Homo sapiens: one gene and its partners. The protein of the gene in region 7 purifies or fractionates together with the protein of the main gene of each other region. This does not show direct contact. Each region holds a gene or a part of one and is shown on either strand. Other genes may lie near its edges.

The links.
Region 1: the proteins of DSC1 (region 7) and SULF2 purify together in Homo sapiens (co-immunoprecipitation; one large-scale study listed by IntAct). This does not show direct contact.
Region 2: the proteins of DSC1 (region 7) and SLCO4C1 purify together in Homo sapiens (affinity purification with mass spectrometry; one large-scale study listed by BioGRID and IntAct). This does not show direct contact.
Region 3: the proteins of DSC1 (region 7) and FLG2 purify together in Homo sapiens (affinity purification with mass spectrometry, with the first as the bait; one large-scale study listed by BioGRID). This does not show direct contact.
Region 4: the proteins of DSC1 (region 7) and SERPINB12 purify together in Homo sapiens (affinity purification with mass spectrometry, with the first as the bait; one large-scale study listed by BioGRID). This does not show direct contact.
Region 5: the proteins of DSC1 (region 7) and GRK7 purify together in Homo sapiens (affinity purification with mass spectrometry; one large-scale study listed by BioGRID and IntAct). This does not show direct contact.
Region 6: the proteins of DSC1 (region 7) and ARMC9 purify together in Homo sapiens (co-immunoprecipitation; one large-scale study listed by IntAct). This does not show direct contact.

Annotation. Positions count from the first base shown.
Region 1 is NC_000020.11:47,673,886-47,677,972, forward strand, and holds part of SULF2 (extracellular sulfatase Sulf-2 isoform a precursor), read right to left. Parts: intron 3,250-4,087; coding exon 3,193-3,249; intron 2,739-3,192; coding exon 2,609-2,738; intron 1-2,608. UniProt on the Homo sapiens protein: Exhibits arylsulfatase activity and highly specific endoglucosamine-6-sulfatase activity. It can remove sulfate from the C-6 position of glucosamine within specific subregions of intact heparin.
Region 2 is NC_000005.10:102,244,031-102,248,117, forward strand, and holds part of SLCO4C1 (solute carrier organic anion transporter family member 4C1), read right to left. Parts: intron 3,413-4,087; coding exon 3,222-3,412; intron 1-3,221. UniProt on the Homo sapiens protein: Mediates the transport of organic anions such as steroids (estrone 3-sulfate, chenodeoxycholate, glycocholate) and thyroid hormones (3,3',5-triiodo-L-thyronine (T3), L-thyroxine (T4)), in the kidney.
Region 3 is NC_000001.11:152,353,281-152,357,367, forward strand, and holds part of FLG2 (filaggrin-2), read right to left. Parts: coding exon 1-4,087. UniProt on the Homo sapiens protein: Essential for normal cell-cell adhesion in the cornified cell layers. Important for proper integrity and mechanical strength of the stratum corneum of the epidermis.
Region 4 is NC_000018.10:63,555,578-63,559,664, forward strand, and holds part of SERPINB12 (serpin B12), read left to right. Parts: intron 1-564; coding exon of another isoform or gene 565-582; coding exon 583-750; intron 751-2,774; coding exon 2,775-2,909; intron 2,910-4,000; coding exon 4,001-4,087. UniProt on the Homo sapiens protein: Inhibits trypsin and plasmin, but not thrombin, coagulation factor Xa, or urokinase-type plasminogen activator. May play a role in cell differentiation.
Region 5 is NC_000003.12:141,780,092-141,784,178, reverse strand, and holds part of GRK7 (rhodopsin kinase GRK7), read right to left. Parts: intron 3,806-4,087; coding exon 3,368-3,805; intron 1-3,367. UniProt on the Homo sapiens protein: Retina-specific kinase involved in the shutoff of the photoresponse and adaptation to changing light conditions via cone opsin phosphorylation, including rhodopsin (RHO).
Region 6 is NC_000002.12:231,271,308-231,275,394, reverse strand, and holds part of ARMC9 (lisH domain-containing protein ARMC9), read right to left. Parts: intron 2,441-4,087; coding exon 2,317-2,440; intron 1-2,316. UniProt on the Homo sapiens protein: Involved in ciliogenesis. It is required for appropriate acetylation and polyglutamylation of ciliary microtubules, and regulation of cilium length. Acts as a positive regulator of hedgehog (Hh)signaling.
Region 7 is NC_000018.10:31,128,736-31,132,443, reverse strand, and holds the end of DSC1 (desmocollin-1 isoform Dsc1a preproprotein), read left to right. Parts: intron 1-601; coding exon 602-850; intron 851-1,605; coding exon of another isoform or gene 1,606-1,641; exon of another isoform or gene 1,642-1,651; intron 1,652-1,732; coding exon 1,733-1,930; 3' UTR 1,931-3,208; downstream 3,209-3,708. UniProt on the Homo sapiens protein: A component of desmosome cell-cell junctions which are required for positive regulation of cellular adhesion.

The DNA of each region.
Region 1 (4,087 bases), on a different chromosome or scaffold from region 7:
CTGAGCTGTGTGCGCTGGCGAGCAGCCTCCTGTCCACTTAGCTCTCTCTGCCTGGAATTCTCCTTCCCCACTGCCTGCTCCCCGCTCCAACCCAACAAACTCAGCTGGGGCACGACTTGAGGGGTCGGCAAACAGCAGCCCTCTTGCTAGTCAACTCCAGCCCACAGCCTGTTTTTGTATGGCCTGCAAACCAAGGACGGTTTTTACATTGTACGTTTTCAGAGTTGTAAAAAGCAAGAACAAAAACAAATATGTGGCCTGCAAAGCCCAAACTATTTACTGTCTGATCTTGTGCGGAAAGGGTTTGCTGCCCCTGCAACTACTCATGTAGAAGCCGTGTCCACATGGCCCGTCCCGAGGCTGTCCTGGCGGGGGCGGCGCCTGAGCCCCACAGGGCTGGGCCAGTGTCGGCTTGACTTGGGGTCCCTACAGCTGCTGAGAACGAAGGTCCCGCAGCCCAACTACCTGGGTTCAAATCCTGCCTCCACCACTTGAAGCTGTGAGGCTGTGGGCAGTTTGCCTGAGCCCTGGGCCTCAGTTTCCCCGTGTACAGAACATACCTGCCAGATAGGGTGGCTGGAGGTAGAGCTTACACTCACGTGTTGCCCGTGATGATCATCATTACGAGGTGCCCAGGGCACATTTACTCCTGCCCGGCCTGGGCCCTGGTCTGGGCTTTGGCAATGATGACATGAATTCTAGCCGGGCCCTGCCCTTAGGATGTCCCCGTGTCACCGGGAGACAGACAGATGCACATGAGCTCGGTTCCTGGGCACGTTTGTTCAGCAAATGACAAAAAAACATCTACCACGTGGGGTAGCACGGACAAGGTACCCAAGACAATGCTATGGCTGGGTGTGAGGCCCCTAAGAGACGTCCTCGGGCCACAGGGTACAGCTTCTACACTGGGCAGGGCATTCCAGAAGGCACGGCACAAGCAGGGACATGGCAACGGCACTCGGGGAGTACCGGCTTGTGAGCAGGGCCGTTGCCTGGGATGGGGGGCAGACGTCTGAGCCTGAGGTCCCCAAAGCTCCGGGGCTGGGTCGGGGGCCGTGGGTTGCTGCCTCCCAGCTGGCCTAGGCTAAGTGCCCCAAACTCCGCCCTCAGCACTCTCTTCCTTTGGCTTCAGTGGTGTGCTCTGATTGTTTGGAAAATGCTGATACCTCCTCTTTCTTGGCCCCAGCAAAGAGGTCATTCTGGCTGCCCAAGCCCTGATCTGGGTCAGGGGAGACATCAGAAAGAACCAGTGGGGGACTTGACAACGTTCCCTCGTCGAGGGGCAAAGACTTCCTGGCCTCCTCATTTCACTCCTTTTAGCCCAGAACTAAAATCAGAACCACTTCTGGGATCTCGGTACAAAGTCAAGGCTGAACTCTCTCCAGAACATCAGCTCTGGGAGGGCAGGAGCTTCTGTTGAGCATGTTCGAGGCTGTGGCCCTGCGCCTAGGACAGTGCCTGGCAAGCGGGGGGACGCATTCATGCTGTACAACGGAGGGATGAAATCCACAGCTCCTGCCCGGTGGCAGATACGGGTTAATTGTGTGACTAAGAGGGGTCTGTGGGTTTACAAACACACACTGGGTGGGGAGGCACAGTCAGGCCTGTATGGGCCTGTACTAATTCTGTGTGCAGTGTTAAGATGGAGTCATTCAAATGCAGTCCATCAGAAACGCATCCACTTCAGGCCTTGGCCTTCAATACCAGGGCCCTGGTTTTGCTTTTTCTCATAGGTGAAACAGGCACACAGCTCCAGCCCCAGCTCAAAGTCCCAGCCTTTGACAGGCAGGGCAGGGACACACCTCCGGCACCCCTTGGGCCAGCCAAGGCAGAGTTTCCATCCCACTCCCCTCCCTGCCCTGCCCCGCCCCCGACCCTCCTCTCCAAGCCTGCCCTGGCTTTCCAGCCTCAGAAAAGCCTCCTTCAGGCTTTCCCAAACATGTCAGTTTCTGGCTATCTCTGATACTTCCCAGATAATTTTCTTTTTTCTTATGTTTTTAGAGACAGGGTCTTATTCTGTCACCCAAGCTGGAGTGCAGTGGCGCAATCATAGCTCACTGCAGCCTCCAACACGTGGGCTCAAGCCATCCTCCCGCCTCAGCTCTGGAGTAGCTGGGACCTCAGGCATGAGCCACGGACTGTTCCTGGCCATAATTTCCTTAATATTTCTCTTGCAATCAATTCACTTTTTAAAACCTTACCTATATTTATTTTAAAAAGCCATGTCTTATTACTCCTATAAAAGGAAAACCAGTCACAAAGAGGATACTGTCAAAGTGAATATGGTGAAAATAAAATAATTTAACTCCTGCTGGGGCCTTCGTGCAAGAGAGATCGGCAAGGGCTAGAGAGGCGCTAAGGGCATACACACACCCACGGGACACTTGGCCTCTGACACGGTCAGGGTCCAAAGGCTGCTGAGAAATGAATCACTTATTGTGAGCATCATCCTGCACCACCAAACAGCATCTTGGGCACCACACGGCAGCAAAGGACTACCCGTTGGGAGGCCCTGGCCCTGCTGGCTCAGCGGCTCTCAGAGCCTCGCAGGTCAGGGCCGGCTGCAGTCAGGAGGGGGAGCCGTTGGGAGGGAAGGGAGCCTTCTTACCTGTCCCAGCTGCTCACACGCCGTCTGGTACTCAGCACGCTGACACAGGTCCTTCACACGCTGGTACTTGGGCAGAAAGTTCTCCTCCTGGGCGTCCACCTTGTCATTGTCTCTCTTGTGTAGCAGCTTGCTATGGGGCAGAGAGCAGGAGCCGCGGGGCCGGCCTCTCAGCTCTGGAGGAGCCCCGGAGGCATGTGTGCCCACCTAGAGGGGTGCCCCCTCGGCTCCGGCTTTTCCTCACAGTGGAGGGCGCAGGGCCACCTGCCCGGGTCTTCTGATGTTTAGGAAACTTAAGACATTGGAATTTTATAAGAAACTTCCCAAATTGCATGAGTTGGCAATAAATTAAATAAATTGAAGACATTGTAGAGGCTGGACAAAGCATGCCAAAAGCGTACACGTGACCTCAGACCCCAATTCTGTGTCTATAGGAGCAGTGAATGGGCTTTGTGTTTAGGGGCCTTTGGACCAACTTCAGAGCCATGGGCAGCTCCTGAATAGCATGATGCGGTGGGGCTACAGAAGCTTCCTGGGCAGAGGGAGGGAGGTGGGCAGGGGTGTCCCTCCCAGGACCCGGCACTCACCCTCTCTCCACCAAGAAGGAGTCCCGCCAGACCCTCATCTTCTTTTTCAAGTGAAACCTGGAAAAAAGCACGGCTCCTGCTTCTCAGCAACATGAGGGCTTCCCACGACCCCCCGTTCCCCCAGGAGCAGGGACGGCACCAGGAGTCAGCCTTGGTTTACGGTCAGCCTGGACAGCAATTGTGGTGAGTGTGCCCAGCTGGGCACTAGAGCATTGCCCACCCTCCTCTGAGTTGAGCCACCCCTTCCCCAGAGACTTGGGTCTGGAGACACACACAGTAGAAATGACCCAGGTCAAAATCACTGTAAGTCCCACCCAAGTAACTGTGTGTGTGTGTGTGTGTGTGTGTGTGTGCGCGCACACACATCTCAAGCCCCTCCCAGGAAGCCCAGCAACTCCCCCGGCACTAGACGAGCTCTATCTCGAGTTCAGCGTCAGGCGCAGTGGTTCAGCATCAGGCGCAGTGGTTTGGCGTCTTGAGCTCTGTCTTGAGCTCAGTGTCAGGCGCAGTGGTTGCCTTGATGTCAGGTTAATTGCATTGGGTTTTGGGAGTATTTTCTTCTTTGGTGCTTTGCAGTTGCATGTATGTAATTTGTATGTTTCATCCAGTGCCACCTGGTCATTTCCATTTCCTAGATGGGGACTCTGAAGCTGAGAGGGGAAGCTTCCACCCTGTCCCCTGACCCCCAGGTGTCCTGGCTCCCAGGCCAGTGTCCCCAAACATGTCCATTTTATACCATTACAGCTTGCCTGGCCTCACAGTCAGGGGAGGAGCCTCAATGGACACGGTCCCCCTACAGGGCAGCCAGATGTGGGCACACAGTGCTCGCCTGGCTGGAGCCTCTGGGAGGCCACAGGGGAAGGGCTCCGCTGCCAGAGGTGCAAGCCAGGAGTTG
Region 2 (4,087 bases), on a different chromosome or scaffold from region 7:
ACAAAAATTAGCTGGGCATGGTGGTGCACGTCTGTCATCCCAGCTACTCGGGAGGCTGAGGCAGGAGAATCACTTGAACTTGGGAGGCAGAGGTTGCAGTGAGCCAAGATCATGGCCACTGCTCTCCAGCCTGGGCAACAGAGCGAGACTCCATCTCAAAACAAAAAAAGAATCAAGTGGAAATTCTGGAGCTGAAAAATGCAATTGGCGTATTGAATAATGCATCAGAGTCCTTTAGTAGCAGAACTGATAAAACAGAATAAAGAATTAGTGAGACTGAAAACAAGCTTTTTGAAAATATACAGTCATAGGAGACAAAAGAAAAAAGAATAAAAAACAATGAAGCATGCCTACAGCATCTAGAAAATAGCCTCAAAACGGAAAATCTAAGAGTTATTGGTCATAAAGAAGAGGTAGAGAAAAAGATGGGTAAGAAAGTCTATTCAAAAAGATAATAACAGAGAACTTCCCAAACCTAGAGAAAGATATCAATATCCAAGTACGAGAAGGTTATAGAAGACTAAGCAGATTTAACCCAAAGAAGACTACCTCAAGGCATTTAATAATCAAACTCTCAAACATCAAGGATAAAGAAAAGATCATAAAACTAGCAAGAGAAAAGAAACAAATAACATACAGTGGAGCCTCAATACATCTGGCAGCAGACTTTTCAGTGGAAACCTCATAGGCCAGGAGAGAGTGGCAAGTCATATTTAAAATGCTGAAGGAACAAAACTCTTACCTTAGAATAGTATATCTGGTTAAAATATCCTTCAAACATGAAGGAGAAGTAAAGACTTTCCCAAACAAAAGCTGAGGGATTTCATCAATGCCAGGCCTGTCCTATAAGAAATGCTAAAGGGTGTACTTCAATCAGAAAAAGAACATTAATGAGCAGTAAGTAATCACCTGAAGGTACAAAACTCACTGGTAATGATAAGTACAAAGAAAAACACAGACTATTCTAACACTGGAACTGTGGTGTGTAAACTACCCTTATCCTAAGTAGAAAGGTTAAATGATGAACCAATAAAAAATAGTAACTACAACAACTTTTCAAGACATAGTACAATAAGATATACATAGAAACAACAAAAGAATAAAAAGCCAGGGGACAAAGTTAAGGTGTAGAGTTTTTATTAGTTTTCTTTTTACTTGTTTGTTTTATCAATAACACTGAATCTAAAAGAACTAAACTCTCTAATCAGAAAACACAGCCTGGTTGAATGGATGATAAAACAAGATCCATTGACCTGTTGCCAACAAGCAAGACACTTCACCTATAAAGACACACATAGACTGAAAATAAAGAAATGGAAAAACACATTCCATGCCAATGGAAACTGAAAGAGAATAGGAGTCACTATACCTAGAAAAAATAGATTTCAAGACAAAAGCTATAAGAAGAGACAAAGAAAGTCACTATATAATGATCAAGGGGTGAATTCAGCAAGAGGATATAACAATTTTAAATATATATGTAGCCAACACTGAATCACCCAGATATACAAAGCAAATATTAGTAGAGCTAAAGAGAGAGACAGGCCTTGATACAATAATAGCTGGAGACTTCAACACCCCATGCTTTGCATTGGACAGATTTTCCAGATAGAATATCAAGAAAGAAACATCAGACTTAATCTGTACTATAGACCAAATGGATCTAATAGATATTTACAGAACATTGCATCCAATAGCTGCAGAATACACACTCTTTTCGTCAGCACATGGATCATTCTCAATGACTGACCATACGTTAGGTTACAAAACAAGTCTTAAAACATTCAAAGTAACTGAAATAATATCAGTCATCTTCCCTGACCACAATGGACTAAAACAAGAAATTAATAAGAGGAATTTTGGAAACTATACAAATATATAGAAATTAAACAATATACTCCTGAATGACTAGTGGGTCAATAAAGAAATTAAGAAGAAAATTGAAAAATTTATTGAAACAAATGATAATGAAAACAACATGCCAAAATCTATGGGATATAGCAAAAGAAGTACTAATAGGGAAGTTTATAGCTATACATCAAAAAAAAGGAAAAATTTCAAATAAATAATCTAATGATACATCTTAAAGAATTAGAAAAACAAGAAGAAACCAAACCTAAAATTAGTAGAAGAAAGGAAATAATGATCTGAGGAGAAATGAATGAAACTGAAATGAAGAAAACAATACCAATGATCAATGAAAAATTAAACAAAATTGACAAACCTTTAGCCTGACTAAGAAAAAAAGGAGAAGATGCAAAGTAATAAAATCAGAAATAAAAAGACACATTACAAGTGATACTGTAGAAATTCAAAGGATCATGAGTGGCTACTATGAGCAACAATATGCCAATAATTGGAAAATCAAGAAGAAATGGACAAATTCCTAGATACATACAACCTACCAAGATGGAATCAAGAAAAATCCAAAGCCTGAACAGACCAATAACAAGTAGCAAGATTGAAGCTGTAAGGAAATGTCTCCCAGTAAAGAAAAGCCCAGGACCTAATGGCTTCAGTGCAGAAAAGCCAAAGCTACTCTAAGCAAAAAGAACAAAACTGCACATGTACCCCTGAGCTTAAAATAAAAATTAAATAAACAGTAAAAAAAGAAAATGTAGTGAGTAAATACTAAGGAACAAAAAAAGAAAAAAGCTATAATTCATTAGGAAAGATATACAAAGACTGATGACTCTATGGAAGGACAGGTATGAAATGTACAAGTATGGAATGTGTTTGTGCAGTGGGATACAAGGAGGAAGAGCAACTGGAAACATAAAACACAGGTGAACAACACAGGTAATAGCCAGTTTCTTATTGATTAGCACTGCTTAAGGAAGATTTAACGTCACAGTGCCTAATGCATAAGGTAGAATGCATGCCATTCTGATTCTGGCATATTGGAATGCATTTTATTTCTATGATACTCAAAACTGAACGTTTCTCCAGCTCACACCTGAAGCTTCATGAAAGAAGCAGAGAAAACACCAAGCACAAGCCAGGCAGGCAATGTGAAGACACTTTCACCTGCATATCATTTAAATCTCCTACATCTGGGGTTCTACAGAGGAGCTTGTCCAATGCCACAGAACTAATGATCTTGTAAGGGCTGATTGGTATTGAACCAATGGTCAATATGAACCCCAAATGAACCCCGAGTCCATTTGTTTTCCATCAACATGTTGCCTTAGGGAATGAAAATTTCTCAACGTGCTACATACCTTAGGATAGACACAGTTATAGGAGTACCGGCCATAAAGGTAAAAATAATTACAATAAAGAAAATGCAAAGGAATATGGGCAGTTTCGCACAATGAGTTTCACATTTTCCAGCTTTAGCTTCAAAACCAAAAGTTTCTGCAGTGGATGTTATTTCTGTTTTCCTTTCAATACAGGAACAGTTGTAATATACCTAAAAATATTAGACATAAAAACAATGAAAGTGATCATTTAGAAAATAAATTATTGTAAATTAGGTATTCTCTAGACATGGCAAACACTCTCATACTGTCTTAATCCATATTCAACAAATTATGCTGAGAGAATATTTAACCCTTAAGAAATTAAGCAAGTGGAAACAAACCATATTTATGATGTGGAATTATCTGTATTTGACTTTTGTGGCCATTACTTCAGTTTGTAACCTGCTACAGTGATTATTGACTTACAAAACAATTTAATGGGAATATAAGTTACATGACCTTGCACATTCTACACTTCTTTCAACAGTAATTATTTCTTAAAGTCATTTTACATCTCAACTCCATCCTTCCATATCCTTTATCCTTACTATAAATCTTTTTTAGACATTAAGGCCTCAACGAATCAGAGCAGAGCCAGAGAAATCAAAGAGAAGCAGTGCTTTCATTGTTCCAAAGGCCAGAAACTTTTTTTTTTTTTTTTTTTTTTTTGGTGCTAAAGCCATTCTAAGACCACTGGTACCAATTCAGGAAAACCAAATATGCAGATGACACCTCCAAAATTGACTATTACATATTCAGCAATCAGATATATCAAATAATGAGGTAATTCAGCCTTTAAAAATTTTAAGGAGAGAAACTGAGAACAGTATTTTCTATCCTAATGA
Region 3 (4,087 bases), on a different chromosome or scaffold from region 7:
CTGTGGCCAGATCCCCTTCTTCCAGTTGTACTGGACCCTCTCTGTGTGGATTTTCCATGATGATAGTGGGCATGTCTAGTGGTATCTCCTGTCTGTCCATGAGTAGTTCCGTGTCTCCCATGAACTGTGGATCCTGACTCTCCATGTTGAGATCCGGCTTGGCCATGAGTTTGTTCTTGTGATTGTGGTCTGTGTGAGCCCCCTGAGTGCACTTCACTGTCACTGGACTCACTATGGCCAGATCCCCTTCTTCCAGTTGTCCTGGACCCTCTCTGTGTGGACTGTCCATGACCAGAGTGGCCATGTCCAGTGGCCTCTCCTGTCTGTCCATAAGTAGTTTCATGTCTCTCATGAACTGTGGATTCTGACTCTCCATGTTGAGATCCAGCTTGGCTGTGAGTTTGTTCTTGTGAGTGTGGTCTATGTGAGACCCCTGAGTGCACTTCACTGTCAGTGGCATCACTGTGGCTAAATCTCTGTCTTCCAGATGTTCTGGAACCTGTCTGTGTAGACTGTCCATGACCAGAATGGCCATGTCTAGTGGTATCTCCTCTCTGTCCATGAGTAGTTCCTTGTCTTCTGCGAACTGTGGATCCTGACTTTGGGTAGTGAGATCCAGCTTGTGTGTGAATGTGTTCTGAATGTCTGTGTGAGACCTTTGAGTGCACTTCACTGTCACTGTTCTCACTTTGGCTAGATCTTCGTCTTCTAGTTACCCTGGACCCTGTCTGTGTGGATTGTCCTTGACCAGACTGGCTATGTCTAGTGGTATTTATTGTCTGACCATGAGTAGTTTCCTGTCTCCCATGAACTGTGGATCCTGACTCTACTTGTTGAGATTCACCCTGGCCCAAGCCAGTTGATTGACCTGAGCCTGAACCATATTGGCCAAATCCAGTGGACTGACCTGAGTCAGATATATGTTGTCCAGAACTAGAGAAATTGTCTGAGCCAGACACATGCTGTCCAAAACTTGTGGTTGGACCTGAGCCAGACTCATGTTGGCCACAGCCAGATGATTGACTGGAGCCAGTACCATGTTGGCCATAGCTAGACTGACCTGATCTGTACTCATGCTGTGCAAAGCCAGAGGATTTACCTGTGCCTGACCCATGTTGTCCAAAGCCAGAAGACTGACCTGAGCCCGATCCATATTGGCCAAAGCCAGAGGACTGACCTGAGCCTGGCCTGTGTTGTCCAAATCCAGATGTCTGTCCTGAATTTGACCCATGTTGACCATAGCCAGATGATTGACTTGAGCCAGAACCATGTTGGCCATAGCTAGACTGACGTGATCTAGACTCATATTGTCCAAAACCAGAGGATTGTCCTGAACCAGTCCCATGTTGTCCAAAGCCAGAGGACTGATCTGAGCCTGATCCATGTTGTCCAAAGCCTGAGTATTGGCCTGAGCTTGACCTGTGTTGTCCAAAGCCAGTTGTCTGTCCTGAACTAGACCCATGTTGACCATAGCCAGATGACTGACTTGAGCCAGAACCATGTTGGCCATAATTAGACTGACTTGATCTAGACTCATGCTGTCCAAAGCCAGAGGATTTTCCTGAGCCTGACTCATGTTGTCCAAAGCCAGAGGACTGACCTGAGCCTGATCCATGTTGGCCAAAGCCAGAGGATTGACCTGAGCCTGACCTGTGTTGTCCAAATCCAAAAGTCTGTCCTGAACTTGACCCATGTTGACCATAGCCAGATGACTGACTTGAGCCAGAACCATGTTGGCCATAGCTAGACTGATGTGATCTAGACTCATGTTGTCCAAAACCAGAGTATTGTCCTGAGCCAGTCCCATGTTGTCCAAAGCCACTGGACTGACCTGAGCCTGATCCATGTTGTCCAAAGCCAGAGTATTGACCTGAGCTTGACCTGTGTTGTCCAAAGCCAGATGTCTGTCCCGAACTTGACCCATGTTGACCATAGCCAGATGATTGACTTGAGCCAGAACCATGTTGGCCATAGCTGGACTGATGTGATCTAGACTCATGCTGTCCAAAGCCAGAGGATTGTCCTGAGCCAGACCCATGTTGTCCAAAGCCAGCGGACTGACCTGAGCCTGATCCATATTGGCCAAAGCCAGTGGATTGACTTGAGCCTGACCCATGTTGTCCAAAGCCAGATGTCTGTCTAGACCCATGTTGGCCATAGCCAGATGACTGACTTGAGCCAGAACTGTGTTGGCCATAGCTAGACTGACCTGATCTAGACTCATGTTGTCCAAAGCCAGAGGATTGTCCTGAGCCAGACCCATGTTGTCCAAAGCCAGAGGACTGACCTGAGCCTGATCCATGTTGGCCAAAGCTGGAAGACTGACCTGAGCTTAACTCGTGTTGTCCAAATCCAGATGTCTGTCCTGAACTTGACCCATGTTGACCATAGCCAGATGATTGACTTGAGCCAAAACCATGTTGGCCATAGCTAGAATGACCTGATCTAGACTCATGTTGTCCAAAACCAGAGGATTGTCCTGAGCCAGAAACATGTTGTCCAAAGCCAGAGGACTGACCTGAGCCTGATCCATATTGGCCAAAGCCAGTGGATTGACTTGAGCCTGACCCATGTTGTCCAAAGCCAGATGTCTGTCTAGACCCATGTTGGCCATAGCCAGATGACTGACTTGAGCCAGAACTGTGTTGGCCATAACTAGACTGACCTGATCTAGACTCATGTTGTCCAAAGCCAGAGGATTGTCCTGAGCCAGACCCATGTTGTCCAAAGCCAGAGGACTGACCTGAGCCCGATCCATATTGGCCAAAGCCAGTGGATTGACCTGAGCCCAACCCATGTTGTCCAAAGCCAGATGTCTCTCTAGACCCATATTGGCCATAGCCAGATGATTGACTTGAGCCAGAACCATGTTGGCCATAGCTAGACTGACGTGATCTAGACTCATGTTGTCCAAAACCAGAGGATTGTCCTGAGACAGACCCATGCTGTCCAAAACCAGAGGATTGTCCTGAGACAGACCCATGCTGTCCAAAGCCAGAGGACTGACCTGAGCCTGACCCACATTGTCCAAAGCCAGAGGACTGACCTGAGCCAGACCCATGTTGTCCAAAGCCAGATGTCTTACCTGAGCTAGACCCATGCTGGTCATAGCCCAAGGATTGACTTGATGTAGACTCATGCTGGCCACAAGTTTGACCTGAGCCACATACATGTTGTTCGAACCCAGAGGACTGACTCAAGCCTGTTCCATGTTGTTCAAAGCTAGTAGACTGACTTGAACCAGACCCATATTGATCACATTTGGAAAATTCATTTGAACTAGAAGAGTTTGAAAAGCGGCCACAGGAACCATATTCATGTTGACCATTACTACAAGACTGGCTACCTCCAGACCCATATTGTCCACAGCAAGAGGACTGACTTGAGCCTGTTCTCCATTGTCCTCCACAGTTCTGTGGTTGACCATTTTCTCTAGCTCCATATCCTCTCTGACTATAGGACTGACTACAGGGGTTAGACTCAGGTTGACCACATCCAGAGGGCTGACCTCCTGAGACACAGCCATGGCCTTGTCCTCCCTTAATTCCTGACTGACAGCCTGACTGAATATAGCTAAATTGATTTCCTTGCCCTCCAAATCTATGTGACTGACAAGAACTTGAAGCATTTTGTGGCCTTCCACACCCACTTGAATTGCTATAACCACATGCATGACTTCGCCTCCCACTGTCTCCTGAACCTGAACAGCTAGACCCAAGCTTTTGTTCTCTAATTCTTGACTGAGTAGAGTTTGATTCATGCCCACTAGTCTCCAATCCACATGACAGACCACCATGACCTTTCCTTTCCCAACTGTTTGATCCAGATCCAGATTCATACTCCTCCCCAGATTCCCTAGAAGGGCTAATGTGTGACTTGTTTATTCTTTCTCTCAGTTCTACAGAGCTGGAACCATGTCTGTCTTTGCCACCACTCCATGAATGACCACAGCTGGACCTGTGGTATCTTTTCTGAGATCCCTCTTGGTTCCCAGAGCTGGATAAATTACCTTGTCTTCCTAGCCTCCTGGAGTTGGACCCATGTCTACATTTCACAGTTCCCCTTGAGTGCCCAGAACTATATCCAT
Region 4 (4,087 bases), about 32 Mb from region 7:
TCAAATTAAGATGAGGTTGTACTGGCTTAGGATGGGCTCTAATTCAGTGACTGCTGTCTTTAAAAGAAGAGGGAAATTTGGATACATACATGGACAATAAAGAGAAGGATGTGAAGATGGAGGCAGAGACTTGAGTGATTTGTCTACAAGTCAAGGAATGTCAAAGTTTGCTGGCAACCACCACAAGCTGAGAGAGAGGCATGAAACAGATTTTCCTTGAGAGTCTTGAAATGAACCAAATCTGCTGATATCTTGATTTTGGACGTTTGTCCCCCAGAACCATGGGAGAATAAACTCCTGCTATTTAAACCACTCAGTCTGTGGTAATTTCTTATGGCAGCCCCAGGAAACGAATTCACACTACTAAATGAAAATAGATCTCTGTCTATCAATATCAACACCAATATTTATATACAGGGATGATAATGACCTTAGTTTTCCAGTTCTTAATAGCATACTGAATAATTGTGCATGATTGTATTTCAGGTATGTAAAATAAAATTGTTTGTTCACTTATTTTCTTCCAATCACCATTTTCTCTTTCTCCTTTTTTTTTGGTTTTAGATCGTTATAAGTTTTACAATGGACTCTCTTGTTACAGCAAACACCAAATTTTGCTTTGATCTTTTTCAAGAGATAGGCAAAGATGATCGTCATAAAAACATATTTTTCTCTCCCCTGAGCCTCTCAGCTGCCCTTGGTATGGTACGCTTGGGTGCTAGAAGTGACAGTGCACATCAGATTGATGAGGTACGTGTCCACTAGGGTGCTACACAGGGTCCTAAACTCTGGGTCCACACTCAAAGTCAGACCCTAATCCCACTTAGGCAAGCCAAGGGGCTTATTGCACCCTGGGCTTGGTCAGAACCCATCCCTGTCTCTGAGTCTTTATTTGTATTTTCTCCATCTTACTTCCTCTTCGATCCTACCATTCTTAAAGTCTCACTTAAACTTGTACCTTCTTTAGGGTGCTCCTCAACTTCATGTCTGGCAGCTTTTCTCATTCATCTCTATCTTTATCTCTGTATGCATGTCTGTCACTCTTTTACTCTATGATTGCTAATACCAATATTGCTAGCGATTTTTAGTATGTGTATATGTCTTCTGTCTCACTCATTTCATTAAATAAATATTCATTAAGTACCATATATGGTTCCAGTGGCTAGAGAGCTTGGTGTCCTCCTGGACTCTTTCTCTCTCACTTTATACCACATTTGTTAGAAAATTCTGTTGGCTTTTCTTTTGAAAGATATCCATAATCCAGGCACTTCTCCCAGTCTCCTTGAGGTCTGAACCACAACCATCTTTTCTCACCTGGATACTGCAGCAACTTCCTGATGGGCTTTCCTGCTCTCACTGGCAATCTATCCTTTGCACAGCAGTCCAAGAGACCCTTTTAAAACCTGAGCCAGATTCTATTTCTCATCTGTTCAAAAACCTGGATTTCTTATTTCACTCATGATAGCAGTTCAAGTCCTTACAATGGCCCACAAGGATCTGGAGATCTGAATCCCAGATAAGCCCTGTGACTCCATCTCTCACTTTCATCCCTCCTCACTGTACCTGTCACATTGGCCTCCTGGCTTCCTTGGGTAAGTCATGCCCATCCTATCTTGGGGCCTTTGCTCTCGGTCCCTTTGCCTGATGGCTCTTTCCCCTGGTAACTGACCTCAGCTCACTTTCTTCTTCAAGACTTTGATCAGTGTTTATCTCCTATACGGGGCCTACTTTGACCTCCTAATCTAGTGCTGCATCCTGACCTCCAGACCATAAGGGATACTTTTGTAGGCACCTAATAAACATTTCTAGAATAAATAAATGAAGGTAATAAGAACAAATCCCCAAATAAACTACAAGTTCCCATGGTTGGCCTTATACTTCCTTGGATGTAGCACATAGTGCGGGGGTTATGCACAACTCAGGCTGTTTCCCCTGAATATGGAGCAGTAGAATTTATGGATTAAGACAGAATGTGTTTCTGGGGTCATTCTGCTTTATTCATCTACTAAGATTTGGTGTATTATTTTCTTATTCCATTAGCAAAACTTAGCTTTAGAGTGTGGTTTGCATCTTGCAGGGCAGAATTCAGATGTTCTTTCTTAGGCAGTTGAGGGCACCTGCTGACCAAATGGGTCTGAGTAGTGCAGGATATGACGCCTGTCTCCTACCTTTCTACCAGGCTCTGGATAACTTGTCTTTTGCTGTCCTCACTCCCTTGATTCATGTGAAACTCTAGATCAGCACTGTCTGACACAAACATAATGAGAACCACATAGTAATTTAAAATTTTTTAGTAACTGTATTGCAAAAGTAAAAAGAAACAGGTGGGACTAATTTTAATAATAATTTTTTAACCTAGTATATGCAAAATATCATATCCACATATCATCAATATAAGAATTTTAATGAGCTATTTTATTTATTTATTTTTTTATACTATATTCAAGATCTGGTGTGTATTTTGCACTTACAGTCAATTCAGATTGGGTATCTATGAAATGCTCCATAGTTACATTTAGCTTGTGGATACCTCTATGTTCTTTTAGTTTGGTTATATTTATTCATAAATGCTCTCCCAGGGTAGCGGTTGGTTCTTCTCCTCGATTCCACCTCCCAACCCAAGTACAGAAGCACCCACTTTCCTTTAAACTGTTGTTGATTGTTTTGTTTGACTATGTAATCATTGCCATTGTCTCATTATGAAATGTTTCTGAAGTTATTCAGGCTTCCCTCTGTTCATATTATCTGAAAGACCCCATCCCGTTATCATGCAGGTACTACACTTCAACGAATTTTCCCAGAATGAAAGCAAAGAACCTGACCCTTGTCTGAAAAGCAACAAACAAAAAGTGCTGGCTGACAGCTCTCTGGAGGGGCAGAAAAAAACGACAGAGCCTCTGGATCAGCAGGTGAACCGCCACCGTAGAAAACTCTTGCCTTTCTTTTTTACAAACTGCTTATTCTGGCTGTAGGATATTTGGTGATAGTTGCTTATCCCCAAATATTAGACTCTGGATACCATCAACAGCAATAACCTCATGTGATCTGTGATTCCTGAGTATGGATCTCAGATGTCCTTGGCTATCAGCTAGTTTCCTAAAGAGTAGGATCTGGTGTCTTCTGCTTATGATAAAGAAGCCTAGATCATCACTCTGTCCCTCATCTGCTTCTATAGGCCACAGGGCCCCAACACAGAGTATGGTCAAAGATAAAGGTGGTAAGGGGTAGGGTCAGCTGTGGAATTCTTACTGTCTCCCTCTATCTCTGCTTGTTCCATTTCGTGCTGAAATCTGCACTGACAGACAAAACTTTTATTGGTTGCCTCATGCCAGGAGGAGGAAAGATATTATCCAGGGTATGCATCCCCCTACTTTAGAAAGTTTAAGAGGAGGGTGGATAGATGATTGTCTTTCTTTCTTTCCTTCCTTCTTTCTTTCTTTCTTTCTTTCTTTCTTTCTTTCTTTCTTTCTTTCTTTCTTTCTCTCCTTCTTCTCTCCTTCTCTCCTTCTCTCTTTCTCTCTTTCTTTCTTTCTTTTTGTTTTTTCTGAGATGGAGTTTCGTTGTGTTGCCAGGCTGGAGTGCAGTGGCGCAATCTCAGCTCACTTCAACCTCCGCCTCCTGGGTTCAAGCAATTTTCCTGCCTCAGCCTCCAGAGTAGCTGGGATTACAGGCATGAGCCACCATGCCTGGCCTCTTTGAAATGTAAAGAAAATCAGAGTGTGTCAGTCTGAAATATAGTGAGCGTTGCTGAGTTCCCCAGATGTATTTTTCCTGGATGATCTTGATATAGATGTGGGAGCCATAATCTTCCACTGGGACCACTTCTCACCCTCCATTCCTCTGTTCTTCCCAGCTCACTTCCCCCAGCATGGTAACAGAGACAGCTGACATCTTACTAAGAAGCTCTATCTTGCTTCTGTACAAAACACGCATCTTTTAGCGGTGTTTAGCTCTTCTGATAGACACAGTGAAGGTCACATTTTGTTTCTTCTTTCCTTAGGCTGGGTCCTTAAACAATGAGAGCGGACTGGTCAGCTGCTACTTTGGGCAGCTTCTCTCCAAATTAGACAGGATCAAGACTGATTAC
Region 5 (4,087 bases), on a different chromosome or scaffold from region 7:
GAGCTGTCCTTCCAAATGGCCATGGCCCATGAACAGAGCCTGAGGAGACTGAGAAAGGAGACTGGAGTGAGCCAAAGCTCTATGTGTCCCCTAAGCCTCCAGCAAGGTCGAGATATAGCAACAATTAGTGTGATACATGTCCATGGGCGACTCAGAAGGAACGCTCCTGCTCAGCACAATGGACAATACAAATGCCAAACTGTGAAGTGCTGCACTTCAGTTTTCTCCAGCCTAGGCAGACATGGATCCACGATTCACAGCGTTCCTGTGTTCATAGGAATGTCCCAAGGAGGCAAACACTCTGTCACCTCCCTGGCCTGCTCCTCCTTCCCACCCACAGAGGAGACGGTGTTACTTCAGCTCCTCCCCACATTCTCTGCCATCATCTACTGTCTTTCCTTCCCACAGGATCAACACCTACTCTGCTGGCTTTTGCCTCAGCATCTAAACCCGCTCTGCCCTCCCCATCTCAAAACTCCATTTCCCCACTGTATCCCCTTCTAGGGACCAGTCTCCCCCTTCCAGAGTCTCATTCCCTACTTCTAGATCAATCCAGCCTCCAGAGTCTGAATTGAGACCTCACCATTCCCTTACACTGATTTCCTAATTGCCAAATCCCACAGGCGACGTTACCTCTTTGCAACACTTGACACTTTGACCACACTTTCCTCCCTGAAATCCTCTTCTTTGGCTCCTGTGGCAGAGGCTGCTAGTTACCTGCTCAATATCCAGCTGTTCTTCATCCTTACTAACTAGAACCCGCTCCTTCACCCCTGCCTCAAGTTCCACATCTACAACGTGGGCACACATGGCCTGGACATGAGCCGGGTGATCTTCTCCTCAGCCCAGATATAATTCAGTAATTATAATCGCTTAATTATAATTCCCTTTTTAACCAAAGAATTTTCAAGAATGTCATTTGTCAGCTTCCTCTGCAGCTAGGGGGTGGCCAGATCACAGTCTTAGCCAGTGACATCTAAGTGAAAGCTGTTGGATGGAGCTTCAGGGAAAGCTCCTAAAGGGGGCCACACTCAACTGCTGCATGCATGCCTATTTACTCCTGACCCTTCCTCCTTTCTCCTACCTGGAACATGGCCCTGATGGCTGGGGCTACAGCAGCCATCTTGCAGCACATGGAAAAGGCTAGAATTATAAAGATGCAGATCCCATTATTCTGCAGCTGCTGAACTAATGCTGGCAAGTGCTTATTTCCACACCCTGTTACATAAGAAAAATAAACCTCTGTCTTGTTTAATCTATTGTTATTTGGGTTTTCTAGGATATGCCCCTGAAACCCATCTCTAACTGATACAGCTCCTATGACTATATCACTCTTGCCTTTCCTCCTACTTCTTTTTTTTTTTTTCTTTTTTTAAGATGGAGTCTCGCTTTGTAGCCCAGGCTAGAGTGCAGTGGTGTGATCTCAGCTCACTGCAAGCTCCGCCTCCTGGGTTGACGTCATTCTCCTGCCTCAGCCTCCCAAGTAGCCTTCTACTTCTTAAACCTCTTCAGGGCTCCTTTTCTTCTATACCCCCACATGTTGGTGTTTTTCAGCTTCTGTTCCTGGTCTTCTTCCCCTACTCTTTCCCAGTGACTCAGCAGTGCCCTCTGCTTCCCAAACCATGATAACTCCAAATCCCCACGTCTATCCCAGGTCTTCCTCCACAGCACCAGGCCTATAGATCTAAATGCCTAGTGAACATCTCTGCCTGTCCCTTCTACAGGAACCTCATAGACAGCATAATCACAATTAAACTTGCCAGCTTGCCTACAAATCTGCTCTTCCTTCTGGCCACTGGAGCTAGAGACCCTCACTTTCCCCTCACCCCCATACCCAGCTGGTCCTGAAGTCCCATCAGATCTCTTTCCAAAAGCTCCAATTTGCTCCCACTTCTTCAATCCCACTGTCCTGTACAGACCCCCATTATTTCTTGCCTGGGCCACTCACTACCTTAGCCTCCTAACTGATGTCCCCACCTACCATCTAACTTCCAAATTGTTGCCGCATTGGTCTTTTTAAGACAGAAATCTAATCATGTCATTTCCCTTCTTAAAACCCTTCAAGAACCCCTCTTCCCCTACAAGAAGGCATTCCAGCACCTGTGAAAGCCCAGCCCTTCAGTCTTGTCAACATCCCTTCCATTACAGCCACATAAAATCACCACAGCAGTTTCCCAAACTTGCCATGATTTTTCTCATTTCCTTTGGGCCCTGTAGGCTGAAAACTGTACAAAAATGAGGTTTTAAGTAACCATTTAAGAGCCAGGTTTGAGCCCTTGCCTTGCTGTGGAATCTCCCACCTTTGTGCACAGAGACTCAGAGGTAAAGATGTTAGAATTCCAGAGATTTTCCGTCGTTCACCTAACATAATCGCTTAATTATAATTCTCTTTTTAACCAAAGAATTTTAAGCAAGTCACTTTGAACAAAACTGATTAAAATAAACATCAGTTGCCTTTGTTTTCTTCCATATATTTTCATTTAAAATATCATCTTCATCCAATGCAAAACATTCGCCCATTCCACACTAAACAGGAAAGGAGATATTTTACTTTTAATGTTCTAGGTGTGAGAGGATCATTCTTTTTCCTTCTTTCTTTATTTTTTTTCTTTTTTCTTTTTCTTTCTTTCTTTTTTTTTTTTGAGACAGAGTCTTGCTCTGTCGAGCAGGCTGGAGTGCAGTGGCATGATCTCGGCTCACTACAACTTCCGCCTCCTGGGTTCAAGCGATTCTCCTGCCTCAACCTCCCGAGTAGCTGGGATTACAGGCGCCTGTCACCATGCCTGGCTAATTTTTGTATTTTTACTAGAGATGGGGTTTCACCATGTTGGCCAGGCTGGTCTCAAACTCCTGACCTCAGCAGATCCACCCGCCTCGGCCTCCCCAAAGTGCTGGGATTACAGGCGTGAGCCATCACACCCAGCCGGATCATTCTTTTTCTTATCTGATTAAAGTTTACCTCCTAGGATCATGGAATTTTAGGGTCCAGCCCCTTCATTTTCCAGAAAAGGAACCCAAGGCTCTATTGGCTCAGGAACACAGCACCATAGAGGTGGTTATTGACACACCCGGACCATGACTATGGATTCAGCTTTTTCCATCTCATCACAAAAGCACAGGCCATCCCCAACTCACAAAGGAGGCTCCCCCATCCCCTGTGAGAGGAGAGCAAAGTAGCCCTCAAATAGCCAATGAATCTAATCCTCTTACACCACTCATCTTAAGGCAAGATGACAACGTAAGCGCTTTAGGAAAAAAAACCAAAAGAATTAAGTCCAAGGCTCTATTTGCCCTGGGAATAGAAAAGCCCTCTCCCCTCCTTTCCAACTCTGTGCCCCGCACTTGGGGCAGGTGGAGAGTCACTCACCCTCTGGGTGATGGGCTTGCCACCCTTCATCTCCACGGCCAGCCCCAGGTCAGATAACCTGCAGTTGCCGAGGTCATCCAGAAGCACATTCTCAGGCTTCATGTCCCGATAGACGATGCCGAGTTCATGGAGGTGCAGCATCCCACAGGCTATCTGGGCCGAGTAAAAGATCACCCGGCTCATGTCCAGGCCACGCGTGCCCACGTTGTAGATGTGGAACTTGAGGTCTCCCCCATTCATCAGGCTCATGACAAGGCAGAGATGGGTCTTGCTCTCAAAGGCATAGGCCAGAGAGACAATGAAAGGGCTGCTGACCTTCTCCAAGATTTCCTTTTCCAAGAGAGCCATCTTCTCGCCACCTTTCTTCTTCAGCCGCTTCTTGTCCAGTTTCTTACAGGCATACATCTTCCCAGTGTTTTTCACCTGGACGGCACATACCTTAAAGGAGAAAGAAAAGAAGAGAAAGAGGTAGAAGTAGATGGTACTGCAGAGAGGTGGAGATGATAAAGGAGGAGGTGGGTGGAAAGATGTTAGGCATTGGAGAAAGGAGTAGCTGTAAATAAGAAGTGTTCTCAAGAAAAAGTGGGGACTACAGTGCGATACTCCTTCACCTCACTAGGCAGGCCTTCATAAAAAAATACAGGAAAATATCAAGTGTTGGCAAGGATGTGGAGAAATCGAAACCTTTAAGCATTGCTGGTGGGAATAAAAAATGTGGAA
Region 6 (4,087 bases), on a different chromosome or scaffold from region 7:
GTGTGGTATCATTATGAGATGCCATCTGGATTAGTAGAAAACTGACATGCCACAGAGAAGCCAGCTCTGCACATCTCCGGATGCGCAGGTTATGGTGAAACCACCACTCAGGACAGAACAGCAGAACCAGTTATCCGTTCATCCTGTTCTTAAACACTACACTGACCCAATCAGGGTGGCTTATTAGAATACAGTGAAGACTGCGCTCTCTTGGTAACTAGCTACCTTCTTCATTTATTGCAGAGACTCTGGAAAACTGCAAAAAGGTTAAGCACATTTACAGAACAAAAAAGCTTAAATTAACACTTAGAGGAAAAGATAAACAGGCAGTAAACATTTGCATTACCAGGAGGAAGTATTTTTTTCACCATATCTTGTATCTGTTACTTAACTATAGTTATTGAATTTCTAAAAACTTCCCCAAAGCGATCAACATGGAGCAAAGTTCTCTCTATAAACAAAAAGAAATGAAGTGTTTGTATGCTCTGAGGAAGTAATGACTCTGCAGCACTTACAGTTCTTTTCGATTCATATAGTTAGAACAAAGAATTTTCATTGGCAGGGAGCTGGCAAATGGTAGATACAAATACCTATCCCTTCCCCCACTAAAAACACACATGCTTAGACCATTTCACTTTGTAGGCTTCTGGTTATTTGTGAGTCAGTCAAATGTAAACCACATTTGATGGGAAGAAAGTGTGTTCAGAAGAGGACCGACAGAAAAAAGTTGAAGACTCCAGGGACTAGAGTTCTCAAGAAAGTCAAAGAGAACTTGAGGTGATCATGAGAGAATAAAAACTCTGAAAAAATTACCATATGTCCCAACAGTTCCTCTCCTAGATGCCGATCCACGAGAAAAAGAAACATATGTCCACACGAAGACTTGTGCTGAAGCATTCATGGCAGCATTATGCATATTGGCCAAAAATGCAAACAACTCAAATGCCAATCAACTGAAGGACAAACAAAATGTGGTGTAGGCCGGGCGCGGTGGCTCACACCTGTAATCCCAGCACTTTGGGAGGCCGAGGCGGGTGGATCACAAGGTTAGGAGTTCGAGACCAGACTCACCAGCATGGTGAAACCCCATCTCTACTAAAAATACAAAAATTAGCCGGGTGTGGTGGTGTGCGCCTGTAATCCCAGCTACCCAGGAGTTTGAGGCAGGAGAATTGGTTGAACCCGGGAGGCGGAGGTTGCAGTGAGCCAAGATTGCGCCACTGCACTCCAGTCTGGGTGACAGAGTGAGACTCCATCTCAAAAACAAACAAACAATATGATGTAGCCATAATGGAGTACATATTCAGCCACAAAAGGAATGAGGCCCTGACACATGCTGCTACATGGACAAACCTTGCAAACGCGATGCTAAGTGAGAGAAGCCAGTCACAAAAGAGTGCACACTACATGATTCCATTTATATGAAACGTCCAGTACAAGTCAATCGACAGAAAGCAGATTTGTGGCTACCGGGGACTGGGGGTAGGAATGAGGAGTGACTGTAAATGGGTATGAGGTTTCTTTTTGTGGTGATGGAAATGTGCTAAACCTGGATTGTGGTGATGACTGCACAACTCTGTAAATACACTAAAAATCCTTCAATTGTATGCTTAATATGGGGGAATATTATGGTGTGTAAATACATCTCAACAAAACTGTAAACTAAAAAGGAACCTACGGGGCCGGGTGCGGTGACTCACGCCTGTAATTCCAGCACTTTGGGGGGCTGAGGTGGGCGGATCACCTGAGGTCAGGAGTTCGAGACCAGACTGGCCAACATGGTAAAATCCTGTCTCTACTAGAAATACAGAAATTAGCCTGGCCCCATTGGTTCCAAGTCATGACGGTCTAGGCTGATCCCATGGGGTGGGCTGCTGGGATCATGGACAAGGTCAGGAGGCCCTAACCCTGACTTCCACAGAACTGCCCTTGACACTCTGCTGGGATGTGCATTCATGTGTGCAGCTCCCACAGGGGACTGGAAGTAACTTGAGGGCTGAGGCTCTATCAGGTCTGATTCATGTGTCTGTCTCTAAGCCCTGCACATGCCCTGAGACACAATCCTGCATGGCTGGCACTCGATAATGTCCATTAGGAAAATCCAATGATGCTTTGAAAATGTCTTCCTCCATCCCCAGCAGCCTTGCGCAGGATAGTTTAGTGGATTACAGATAAGCTTTCTAGCTCTGTCTTAGAAAGTCATCCAACCTCTCCAAAGTGTAGTGGAAAAATACCATCTGCCTCCTGGGTTGCCATGGGAATTTTAACTCAATCTGATCTCACAGGAGACACCGTGACCTATTGCACAGTCGTTACCTGAGACTGAACTTCTGCAGGGCCCCAAGAACATTCTCCCTGGTGATGATATCCTTGTCCTCCTCCTTCAGCCTTCCCTCCAGCATCTGCAGCACCTTTGTGTTCTGGGCAAGGTAGAGGCGACCTGATAATACACCAGAGATGAAACAGGTGAAAGACAGAAATAATTTATCTGGTATGCTACAAAACCACTTTCCACGAAAACTTACTTTGCATATAACACAGTAGAGTTTGGGTAATTTTATGTTCTAAAAAACTTACTGGGCAGGGCGCGGTGGCTCACGCCTGTAATCCTAGCAGTTTGGGAAGCCAAGGCAGGCAGATCACCTGAGGCCAGGAGTTTGAGACCAGCCTGGCCAACATGGTGAAACCCCGTCTCTATTAAAAATACAAAAATTAGCTGGGTGTGGTGGCAGATGCCTGTAATCCCAGCTACTCGGGAGGCTGAGGCAGGAGAATTGCTAGACCCCAGGAGGCAGGTTGCAGTGAGCCTGAGATCGTGCCACCACACTCTAGCCTGAATGACGGAGCGAGACTCCATCTCAAAACAAACAAACAAACAAACAAACAAACAAACACTTACTGGTTGTGCAAGGTGGCTCACGCCTGTAACCCTAGCACTTTGGGAGGCTGAGGCAGGTAGACTGTTTGAGCCGAGGCGTTGGAGACCAGCCTGGGCAACAGGGCGTAACCTCATCTCTATAAAAACTAAGGAACATTAGCCAGGTATGATGATGCACACCTGTTGATCCCGCTAATTGGGGGGCTGAGGCGCGAGGAGTATTCCTTGAGCCCAGGTGGTTGAGGCTACAGTGAGCCGAGATCATGCCACTGTACTCCAGTCTGGTTGACAAAGTGAGACTCTCTCAAAAAAAAAAAAAAAAAAAAAAACCAAACACACACACACACACAAAACCCCCACAAAACTTATTAAAACTTATTAAAAGATATTTCTTCTAAACGTTAAACGTTGGTTTTATTCAATGAAATATCTGGTGACTAGAAAAACCACTCTTCTTGTGAGCTAAACATAATTCATTGCTGTGTTCTTGTGGGGAGCATTGTCCTTTTTTTTCCATGAAATCCTGAACCCAACAGTCAGATCTACAAAGAGAAATGAGGGGTAATGTGTGTGTTATGAGCCCTTAAGTCTTCACAACAGAGGCAGCCAAGGAATGCTTCCATACACACTCTCTGTACAAGGCCTGGAGAAGAAGCAGGAAGCCACACCTGGGACCCTGTAATAAGCCCAGAATGGTCCCTAGCCTGTTGTGGACTTCTGAATGGATATGGAAGATGTTAATTTCAGACATAAGTTTCAACAGTATTATTATATGAATGGTCCTCAGTAACACATCCTGGCTTATCATAAATGTCTGCCAAATGGATGGAAGAACGAATGAACAAATGAACAAAGTTTTGGAGTATCATATATTCATAATTTGAAAACTCCCTTTATTCACATTATAAAGAGCTCAAATAAATAAGAACTTACGGAAGATAATGGCACTTTGCAAAATCATTTTAAATTCAGTTATGGGGGCATGTTATTTTCAGAGTTTTCAAATCCTTTGATTTAAGAGGTCATAGTCTTCTGAAGGAAATGGTGCAGTGTTTATTGGAGTCTGCTTTGTTTCGCTAAGCTTATTTTGCCGTAATTGTTTCACTTATTTTGCCTTAAGTAGAAAATTATAGAAGATGCATTCATTACCTGTGATATACTTGAAAGCAATATAAAATGTTACTATGTTACAAAACCAGAAAGCTTTAT
Region 7 (3,708 bases):
AAGTGCCCTCAGTGTTTTAAATCATTTAAACCTCCCAATTCTACAGGGCTAGGGCTGTCACAACAAACTGAGTGACTTAAACAACAGACAAGTATTGTTTCACAGATCTGGAGACTAGAAATCAGAGATCAAGGTGTTGGCAGGTCCGTGCTCCCTCTGAAGGAACTGGGGAGGGATCTGTTCCAGGACTCTCTCCTAGCTTCTGCCAATTCCCTGGCTTATGGCAGTGGAAATCAAATCTTCATATGGCGATTCTCCATGTGTGCATGTCTGTGTCCAAATTTCCCCTTTTTATAAGGATACTGATTATATTCGCTTAGGGACCCACTCTAATCCCATATAACCTCATCTTAGCTAATTACATCTACAATGACCCTATTTCCAAATAAGTTCACATTCTGAGTTACTGAGGGTTAGGGCATATGAATTTTTAGGGGACTCAATTCAACCCATCACACCTATGATACTATTATTCTGATTTTATGTATGAGGAACAGAGAGGCACAGCAGGCAAGTGATTTGCCTATGGTGAAAAAAAATGAAAATGAATTGTTAGTTTCCATTTTTCAAATTCACTTTATCACTCTCACTTTACTTTTAGGAAGCAAATATTAGACTCCCCATGCAGACATCCAACATTTGTGACACAAGCATGTCTGTTGGTACTGTTGGTGGCCAGGGAATCAAAACACAGCAAAGTTTTGAGATGGTCAAAGGAGGCTACACTTTGGATTCCAACAAAGGAGGTGGACATCAGACCTTGGAGTCCGTCAAGGGAGTGGGGCAGGGAGATACTGGCAGATATGCGTACACGGACTGGCAGAGTTTCACCCAACCTCGGCTTGGCGAAGTAAGTTCCACTGTCTTTGAGGTCATATTACATGGAAGTTAAATGCTAGTTATAAATCAGAATTTCCCAAAAGTTTTACTCCTCATATACCTGGAATTCAACATCTTTTACCTGTTGGATTATCATAGATGTGGATGTCTGGTTTAAACCCAAAGATAAAAATGATCTTTGAAAATTCACCTTTGAAAATACAGTTTACAAAACTTTATCTAGGAGTGCCATATGTAGATGTGTTTACAAAGGATAAAAGGTTCATAGCCTCTTCCCTAGAAATTAACAGGAAAACCAGCTGGAGTGAAATATTTATTATACAGGAATGAATGGATCATAAATTATAAACATTTCTCAGTGTGCTTGAGTTCTTTGTGTGGTTATGAAGTCCTGGCTATCAAAATCAACCAGATAAATTGTTGAGCTTTTATTTTGAGTTTTAGTTCCTTGTTTTGTTTTATGTTCAGATTAATCAGTATAGGTTTGATATTAGCCAGTTTAATATATTACACTATCACAGTTATATAGTAGTGTATAAACATAGGAATCATAGCCTATATTGGTTTTCCTCAAATACGTGAAGAAGCTACAAAGGTAAATTTCAAATATACATGTTTTGTGTTCAAATGGGAAATTATAAATGTGTTGCGTGATATATGCGTAGTCTTAATTTTTTAAATGTGCTCACTAGAAGCATTTATTTATTTGCTATATTTTAAGAGTGACTATAATACAGACCAATCCTGTGCATTTTTTATATATAGGAATCCATTAGAGGACACACTCTGATTAAAAATTAAACAGTAAAAGGTAAATCAAAGACATCATTTTTCTGCTAATATGTTTAGGTGTTTTTTAAAAAATAATAAAATGTGCTCTTTTTTGATACAGAAGGTGTATTTGTGTGGACAAGATGAGGAGCATAAACATTGTGAAGACTACGTTTGTTCGTATAACTATGAAGGCAAAGGTTCTCTGGCCGGCTCAGTAGGTTGCTGCAGCGATCGGCAGGAAGAAGAGGGACTGGAGTTTCTAGATCACCTGGAACCCAAATTTAGGACATTAGCAAAGACATGCATCAAGAAATAAATGTGCCTTTTAATAGTGTAATATCCACAGATGCATAAGTAGGAATTTATTACTTGCAGAATGTTAGCAGCATCTGCTAATGTTTTTGTTTATGGAGGTAAACTTTGTCATGTATAGGTAAGGGTACTATAAATATGAGATTCCCCTACATTCTCCTTGTCTGGTATAACTTCCATGTTCTCTAGAAATCAAGGTTTTGTTTGTTAATTCTCTTTTATATGCATGTATATATTGCCCTTTTCACGACTGTACTGTACACCTTCTTGCACCTTTTATTTGCAAACTGATGTTACTTTTTGTGCTGTGGAAGAGCATTTGGGAAAGCTGGGTATTATAGAGGCCAATGAAAGATGAATTTGCATTGTAGATGTACGAATTAAATATGTTCTTCAAAATCTTGGGGAGAATTATGTTCTTAGAACATAGTTGGTGCCAGATAATTGCATTCTCTCCACCTGAGTGGTTTAAAAAGGACTTTTAAGTATTCTTCAGTGCAATCTTCAGTTTTGTGATTAAGTTCATTTCTCTTTTACACTTTTGTACTCCTCAGAGCAGTGCTCCCAGCATTGTTTTCTTTCAGGATCCTTCAGAGCTCAGTCCCTGGACCTCTGCCCATGTGGATTTGTTGTTAGGTCACTCCAACTTCTAGGGTTCTTGGAAAGATAAGGACCAGAACAAGCTCATAGCAAATTGAGGGGCAGAGATTTTATGAAGATTACATGAGAAGATTTCCATGAAAGAATTGCAGCCCTGAGGTCCATGGGTTGACTTATGCTCACAAATATGTTTCGTTTGCTCAACATGGTTTACTACTAACATTTTAAAAATATAAATACTTTAGCAAAAACATTCACTCTTGAGTTTGACATAGGCCTGCCTTATCTGTGGTTGCCACCTGCCATCTCCAAGCATTTGGACAACTAGCCCTGATGCATTAGGCTGCAACTCTGATATACAGAGACTAGCACCTTGAATATGCCAGAAATTGAATTACCATCTGTATTAGAACTTAAGACTCAGCCTAAATTTACAGTTACTTTAAGAAAATGGGCAGTCAGAATTAGGGACTAGAATGTATATGAGAAACCCCCACTCTACTAAAAATATAAGAAATTAGCCGGACATGGTGGCGAATGACTGTAATCCCAGCTACTCAGGAGGCTGAGGCAGGAGAATCGCTTGAATCCAGGAGGCGGAGGTTGCAGTGAGCCGAGATTGCCACTGCACTCCAGCCTGGGCAACAAGAGCGAAACTCCGTCTCAAAAAAAAAAAAAAAAATTGAAATCAATTACAGCAACACTTACCAAACATTTGTAGAATGATGAATAAATGAACGCACACATTCAGAAATAATTTTGAATGTATAACATTTTAATAGGATAGTATATTTTATTAATCTAAAAAGAAACTATATATTTAAATAGCATTTTCGTAGTCATTTGTGGCAAACTCTATAAGTCTATAAACAATAACAGTATGGAAATTTCTCATCCAGAAAAAACAAAGACTTAAAAAAATCTATTAACTAGATATTTTCTAACTAGTTAACTATTTTTAAAAATGAGTGGCTTTTTAAAAAAATTTTGTGACTAGTCTTCTAATTCTCAGTTCCAAATTAAAGGCGCTTCTTGATATGAAATTGGATATTGGATCAGAAGAAAAAAGTGATTTTAATAAATCAGATTTTATAAGGTATCCATAACATATAATTTTTATAACCATTATAAAATATTTTTGTGGTCATGCAATTTTTGTTCTCTGATGTACAGGTTGCTCTG